2 linked regions of the Homo sapiens genome follow. The protein of the gene in region 1 purifies or fractionates together with the protein of each later gene. This does not show direct contact. Each region holds a gene or a part of one and is shown on either strand. Other genes may lie near its edges.

Region 1 (3,748 bases):
AGAGAGAAGTTATCTTCCTCTCTACCACACTAGCAGGTGATGGTCTTTCCTGTTCTATCTTTTTGGCTTTAGCTCCAGCCCCTCTTTATTTATTTTTCTGGTATTTTACGCATGCCACACGAATTCATCTAAACGAACGGTGAACAAGTGCCATATCGTATCAATGTCTTACACGGCTGAAGGGCAAACCACCCTTTTTTCCAAAGTCCTTTTTCCATTTACCCACCAATTCAGCATGCTGCAGTACATTTCTTTTCGCATTCCCACCTTGGTCTTATCCCACACATGGAGACGGAAATGCTTTCTCGTTTTCTGTTCCAAGAATTACTAGTAACGAGAGCACACCCTACCGCATCAGCAAGCCCCAGTGTGATCGCTTTCTTTCGGCCTCCTTTGTCTCTTTTCCCCCCCACCCCTCAGGGATTGCGTGAAACAAACAACTGTTCAGTGAAACTAACCTGAAATTACACGTCTACTTTCTTTCCCCGGCTGGCGCTGAGATGGGCAGGTGCTGGAGCAGCCCCGCTGGAAGCGATGCAGCATCCAGGAAGACGGAGGAAGGGGCAGAGAGGGACCTCTGCTTTCCAGGCTGCCTTTTATACTGCCTCTGGTCACCTGACGTGGAACGTACCCTAACCTAATCAGTTACATGTAGGTTAATTACAATTAACTTAATCCAATTACATGACTCGGAAAGGTCTATCTGCACAGCCCACTCTAAGATCATGTCCACTGCTGACAGACATTCTAAAACCTACGTGTACAGCTGCAAGCTTTGAAGAATAGATGTTCCCCGTCAGATATGTAACACTGGTGCCTGTACCCCTGTCTTCTTTTCCATCTTTTTTGTTTTTGTGTTTTGTTTTGTTTTAAAAAATGTGGTAAAATAGACACCTTTTAATTGGACCATATTTACTCTATCTCGACGTAGGCCTCCGTGTCATCATGGAGATTCTCCTTGACATGCAGTCACGGCCATGATCCATCTTCAGAGCTTCTCTTTCTTCCCCACGGTAGGTCTGTCAGCAGAGAACCCTGACCACACACTCATGTGTTTTCTCCTCCAGAATGCGCTTGGAAACCACCGTGAATTGGAGCGCACTGGGAAACACAGATGAAGAAAGTCAACACCGCTTTGTCCTTCAGTGCCTGGCTCCCTTTTCAGCTGGTCTTGAGACTCCAGGCATTGGAGTCCAGGGAGGGGCACGCCGCCTTTACCTTGTGCTTCCCACGATCTTGTCTCCTTAATCCCCACTGCAGCTCTCTGCCATAGGGTCTTATACTGCTTTACATGTGGGAAACTGAAGCTCAGAGGGTTTCACAGCAGGGCAGGGAGCCCAGATGTGAATCTGTACATACCAAGCTTTCTAATTTTTCAGTAGTTTCCAAGCATCTTTTTTTTTTTCTTGTTTCTTCATTGATGTCTTTTTTTTTTTTTTTTTTTTTTTTTGAGACACAGTCTCTGTCGCCCAGGCTGGGGTGCAGTGGTGTGATCTCAGCTCACTGCAACCTCCGCGTCTCACAGTCAAGCAATTCTCATGCCTCAGCCTCCCGAGTAGCTGGGACTACAGGTGCCCACTACACCCAGCTTATTTTGGTATTTTTAGTAGAAACAGGGTTTCACCATGTTGGCCAGGCTGGTCTTGAACTCCTGACCTCAGGTGATCCACCTGCCTTGGCCTCCCAATATGCTGGAATTATTGATATGAGCCATTGTGCCCGGTCATGTCATTGTTGCCTTAACCAAGCCTCTTTTAATTTTTCAAACGGAAGAGCCCCTGTCCCTCAGTTACTGCTGCTGAGCCCTTTCAAGATGACTCAGTGAGGAGGGGGAAAAGCAGAAGCGGTGTGGGAAGAGGCGGGGTCTGGGCCAGCTGCTGGTCCTGCTCTCCTCCCTCCTTTGGCCTCTAGGCTCCCAGGAGTGGTTTGGAACCTGCGCCGTGTGCTCTGGGGGCTGTGGCAGGGCAGGGGCGGCTTGGAACCTGCGCCATGTGATCTGGGGGCTGTGTCAGGGCAGCGGGAGTCCTCGTGTCCCCTGCGCACAACACAGACAGAAGGCTGGGTCCACCCAGTGGGCGGTCGGGTGCCAGGCCAGTGCTTACCCCGCCATGTTTTCAAGCCCGAGGCCAGCTGGCTGCAGGTGCAGGGCTATGCGTCAGGGGTCAGGGTGCACACATCCCTGCAGGTCTCGGGGCTCCTGGGTTGCTTCTGGAAGGGCCCGGATGGGGCCTGACTGGAGCTGCCGAGGGGTGGAGCTTCTGGGAAAAGGATCCCTCCTAGGGGGAGTGTCTTGGGCCTGGGGCCACGTGGCACGGAGAGAGACGGGTCCATGGCAGTGTCTGCTTTTCTCTGTGAAGGCAAAGGGCCTCTGAGGGAGTATTACAGCCGCCTCATCCACCAGAAGCATTTCCAGCACATCCAGGTCTGCACCCCCTGGCTGGAGGGCCGAGGACTACCCCCGCTTCTAGGTGAGAGGCCAGCAGGAGGCTCAGGGAGGACGCGGGGCCTTAAGCAGGGGGAACAGGGGTGGGCAGGATGTACTTTTTTCAGAAAAGGTGGCTCTGGAGGCCACTTGGGGACAGGACCTGGGCTCTAGCTGAACTCCCGGGAGGAGGCTACTTCCTGGTGTGCCAGCCCCTCCCTGCCAGGTGGCCCCAGAGGCCCTTTACCAAGGGGTTTGAGGAGGCCACGTCCTTTCAGTCTGCCACGCCCTCCATTCAGTCCTCTTCCTTCCTGCAGGAGGGCTGGGCCTGGGGTTGGGGCCACTGTTGCCCAGGTGTGGGAGGGCAGTGGCTTTGGGAGGTACAGGGACGATGTGTCAAACAGCGTCGCCTCTCCCAGTGCGATGGTTCTCCTTTGCCTCCGTCTCTTTCCGCGTTGATTTCTCCAAGTGGGGAGTCGTGGCTTGGTCCTGATGCGTCTCTAGAGCCGCATCTTCCAGCTTCGAGTGAGCAGAGCAGTTGGAGTCTGAGGGCCTTTTCCTGGCAGGATTCTCCAGCTAGTCTTTGTTTTAGACAGTCTTGCTCCGTTGCCTAGGCTGGAGTGCACGATCTCAGTTCATGCAACCTCCGCCTCCTGGGTTCAAGCGATTCACCCACCTCAGCCTCCCAAGTAGATTACAGGATTACAGGAGCCCGCCACAACACCTGGCTTATTTTTGTATTTTTAGCAGAGACAGGGTTTCACCATGTTGGCCAGGCTGGTCTTGAACTCCTGACCTCAAGTGATCCTCTCGCCTTGGCCTCCCTAAGTGCTGAGATTCCAGGCCTGACCCATCATGCCTAGCCCCAGCTAGTCTTTAGAAATGTTAAGCTATTTGGCTTTATTTTCACACTGACAGCTGGTTTGTGGTGGGTGTGATGTGGTTTATTATTATTATTATTATTATTATTATTATTTTGAGACGGAGTTTCGCTCTTGTTATTATTATTATTATTATTATTATTATTATTATTATTATTATTTTGAGACGGAGTTTCGCTCTTGTAGCCCAGGCTGGAGTGCAATGGCGCGATCTTGGCTCACTGCAACCTCTGCCTTCCCGGGTTCAAGCGATTCTCCTGCCTCAGCCTCCTGAGTAGCTGGGATTACAGGCACCTGCCACGAATTAGCTTCGCTAATTTTGTATTTTTTTTTAGTAGAGATGGGGTTTCACCATGTTGGCCGGGCTGGTCTTGAACTCCTGACCTCAGGTGATCCACCCGCCTTGGCCTCCCAAAATGCTGGGATTACAGGCGGGAGGTGAACC
Region 2 (3,648 bases), on another chromosome or scaffold:
GCAGGCCGGGCACAGTCGTCACGCCTGTAATCCCAGCACTTTGGGAGGCCGAGGCAGGCAGATCACGAGGTCAGGAGATCAAGACCATCCTGGCTAACATGGTGAAACCCCGTCTCTACTAAAAATACAAAAATTAGCTGGGCGTGGTGGTGGGTGCCTATAGTCCCAGGTACTCAGGAGGCTGAGACAGGAGAATGGCGTGAACCCGGCAGGTGGAGCTTGCAGTGAGCCAAGATCACCCCACTGCACTCCAGCCTGGGCAACAAAGCGAGACTCTGTTTCTAAAAAAAATAGTTGGTAGCTTATTGGAGTACATGATATAATTGCTCAAAAGGCAAGAGAATACAGTCATTAACAGTATGAACTCTGAGTTGGGCACAGTGGCTCACACCCATAATCCCGACACTTTGGGAAGCTGAGGTGGAAGAACTGCTTAAGCCCAGGAGTTTGAGACCAGCCTGGGCAACATGGTGAAACCCTGTCTCTACAAAAAAATTACAAAAATTAGCTGGGCATGGTGGTGCTTGCCTGTCGTCCCAGCTACTCGGGAGGCTGAGGTTGGAGGATCACCTGAGCCTAGGGAGGTCGAGGCTGCAGTGAACCATGATCATACCACTGCACTCTAGCCTGGATGACAGAGTGAGACCCTATCTCCAAAAAAAAGCATATAGGGCAACAAACGGAAGCAGACTAAGATAAAAAAATAAATAAATACAGGTTAAAAGGAAGTAGGTAAGATAGATAAAGGATAAGAGATGAACAGATTTGTGATAAAGCAAGTATAAAGTTAACAGTAGAATCTGGGTTGTGGGTATATGAGTGTTCACTATAAAATCCTTCCAACTTTGCTTTATGTTTAAAATGTTTCATAATAAGCTAGGGGAATAAAAGGAAGTAGACACAGAGGCATCAGCCCAAGTTCTGAGTCATAACCATGCTACCTTCCTGTCCTATGAGCCCAAACTCCAGGGCAAGCTTAGAAAAACCTGATTTGGGAATCCTGCTCATCAAGACTTTCCTGCACTAGATAAGCAGGAATCAGGTGTTAACGAGGACCACCTTGGCATGAGTAGATATAGTCAGAGGGCAGAAATGCAGAGGTTCCACGGAGAAGTACCATGCTCACAGCACTATGACATTGTCACCCCTGCTCAGGAAGACCTCAGGAATAAGGCTCTGGATAAAGAACAGGTGGCATATACTCACTCATGGACTCTGTTGTCACCATAGAGATCACTCAGGCCGAAGCTGATGTAGTGCCAGTGCTCGGGGATGTTAGCAGAAGGGCTCCCCACATTCCTGTACATGCTAACATAGTCCAAGGGGTCTGGGCCACCCAACCTGCAAAAAACAAAACACAGGGGTGTTAGTGTAAGCCTGGAAATCAGACAATGTCAAGCTAAGGCGCTCTACTTTGTAAACCTAAAGGACCCATCCTGGAGGAACCTGGGTGAAAGGTAACTAAACAGAGGCCACATCTCTCCAGAATGAGACTAAGGGATGGACAGCTAAGGCTGCCCAACTCTGCAAGCCCAAGAGGCTCCCTTCTCCTACCCCTGAAAGACTGGGCCTCTTTTAGAAATAAAACAGACTGGATGGTTACCCATTTTGCTTTCTCCTGTTTCAAATTACCGATCCCAAATGAGATTGGCAGGGATTGTCTCTCTTCTGTGGTGCCTGTATACATGCCAAGCTTCAAGGCAAGAGGTACATCAGTCAATCAATTGGCCTCTGTTGAAAGACCATCCCAAGCATCCCCAATGGGCATTGTTCCTGGAAGCAGAGGCTCTGCTCCACTCCAGCCTCTTAGACAGCTAATTCCTGAAAGACTATATTGTGCCCTATGTTAATTACAGTTTGTTCTAAACAAACCCAAAGCCTCTAGTCTGTGCTGACACCAGCCTGCACCCCATAGACCAAAGCTGGTCTCTTATCATTGCAAGTGACAAAGGCCAAACTTAGGCTTAACTTAGTTCTGCACAGAGAACTGCAGAAGGAGTCAAACTGCGCCCTGTGAGCATCTGCACCCAGAAAATGATCCCAGGAGAGACTGCCACATCAAAGGTAGAGCTGGGATGGTAAATGATTTGGGGCCTCTCAGGACCACATTAAATTTCCCCCACCATTCAACTGAGAAGGAGTTGCGGAAGAGATTCAGTTATTATCTCACTCTGAGGATTTAATACAATAAGAGTTCCCTTTAGTAATCAGTGCTTTTTAAAAAAAATCCTGTTTTGGCCGGGCACGGTGGCTCACACCTGTAATCTCTGCACTTTGGGAGGCCGAAGTGGGTGGATTACTTGAGGTCAGGAGTTTGAGACCAGCCTGGCCAACATGGTGAAACCCCATCTCTACTAAAGATACAAAAAATTAGCCAGGTGTGGTGGCAGGTGCCTGTAATCCCAGCTATTTGCTATTTGAGAGGCTGAGGCAGGAGAATCGCCTGGACAACAGAGGCAGAGGTTGCAGGGAGCCAAGATTGCGCCACTGCACTCCAGCCTGGGTGACAGAGTGAGACTTTGTCTAAAAAAAAAAAAAAAAAAAAAAATGGATAAGAAATTTTGGTAGCTAGAGAAATAGACCAAATAGAAACCATCAGTGGAAGGAAGTCTGCATTTAGCCCACAAACACGGCATTTGAGCTGCCTCAAACATCTGACCATTCCACAGACTGCAAAAGCTTCACCTGCCCCTGGGACATCGATGGAGTACACTTTGCAACTGGGATAGCATGCTGGTGGAAAGCTAACAACCAAATAAAAGACATGTTACAAGTGATCCCAGTCAATGGTGCCAGCACCAGGCAATTTAAACACTATTTAAAACCAGTTGGTCTTGTTTCGTCCTCTTTCACCAGGATATTATTTGCCTTTGTGGATAGAAATCCCTATTCTCTGTTAGGAAATGCTAAGTTATTTATAGAACTTTTAAGAAAGTTGCTACAAATAGCTTAGCATCTCAACAGAGGAAGAGGGACAACTCTCCATGTCTGCCTTAACTGATTTCAACAAATCACTTGACTAATTCTACAACAGGTTGGATTTAGAAAAGTTTGTGGGGCAAGGGAAGAAAGAAAAGAGTAGAGATCCCTGGAAAGACCCCATTAGAGCTACAGAACTCCAGAGCAGATGAGAGCCACTACAGGCCCCATACCTGCTCCAGTTTCCTGCTGCAAATTTCCAAACCTGCCCCGCTACAGCCTAGGTCCATCCTGCACCAAGCTGCAAAACTGTGTTTACCATTCTCTGCTCCATCTGCAGCATCCCTGCAGCCCTCTTTCTCACCAAGTCTCCCACAAGGTGTCACATCAAGGAGAGAAGCTTAACCTTCAAACTCCAACTGCAAGGAACTACCAAGAGTCAGATAAAATTAACCCTGTCCCCAAGCACAGAGTATTCTGTTTACTTACTACTCAGAGGCCAGATGAGTATGTGGAAAAAAATCGCATTTTACACTTAGCAAATGATGTTATCCAAGGTCCCAGGGCATCCCTCAACTTAATTCCTTGAACACCCAACTTCTCTCTGCAGGGCAGTTGCAGGACTGAAGTGGGCCATGAGTACAGGTTCTGCCTCTCTGCTTTGATCCTTGCTCACCAAAGTCTCAGCTTTCAGTTAGAATGTCCCCACTACTCAGGGATCACCAGTCA

What was found. The genes of interacting proteins can lie anywhere in the genome.
Region 2: the proteins of FAM90A1 (region 1) and SUFU purify together in Homo sapiens (affinity purification with mass spectrometry; 4 studies listed by BioGRID and IntAct, with this or other methods). This does not show direct contact.

Annotation. Positions count from the first base shown.
Region 1 is NC_000012.12:8,225,378-8,229,125, forward strand, and holds the start of FAM90A1 (protein FAM90A1), read right to left. Parts: upstream 2,242-3,748; 5' UTR 2,103-2,241; intron 1,102-2,102; 5' UTR 895-1,101; intron 638-894; exon of another isoform or gene 616-637; 5' UTR 459-615; intron 1-458.
Region 2 is NC_000010.11:102,506,862-102,510,509, reverse strand, and holds part of SUFU (suppressor of fused homolog), read right to left. Parts: intron 2,232-3,648; exon of another isoform or gene 1,604-2,231; intron 1,342-1,603; coding exon 1,207-1,341; intron 1-1,206. UniProt on the Homo sapiens protein: Negative regulator in the hedgehog/smoothened signaling pathway. Down-regulates GLI1-mediated transactivation of target genes. Down-regulates GLI2-mediated transactivation of target genes. Part of a corepressor complex that acts on DNA-bound GLI1.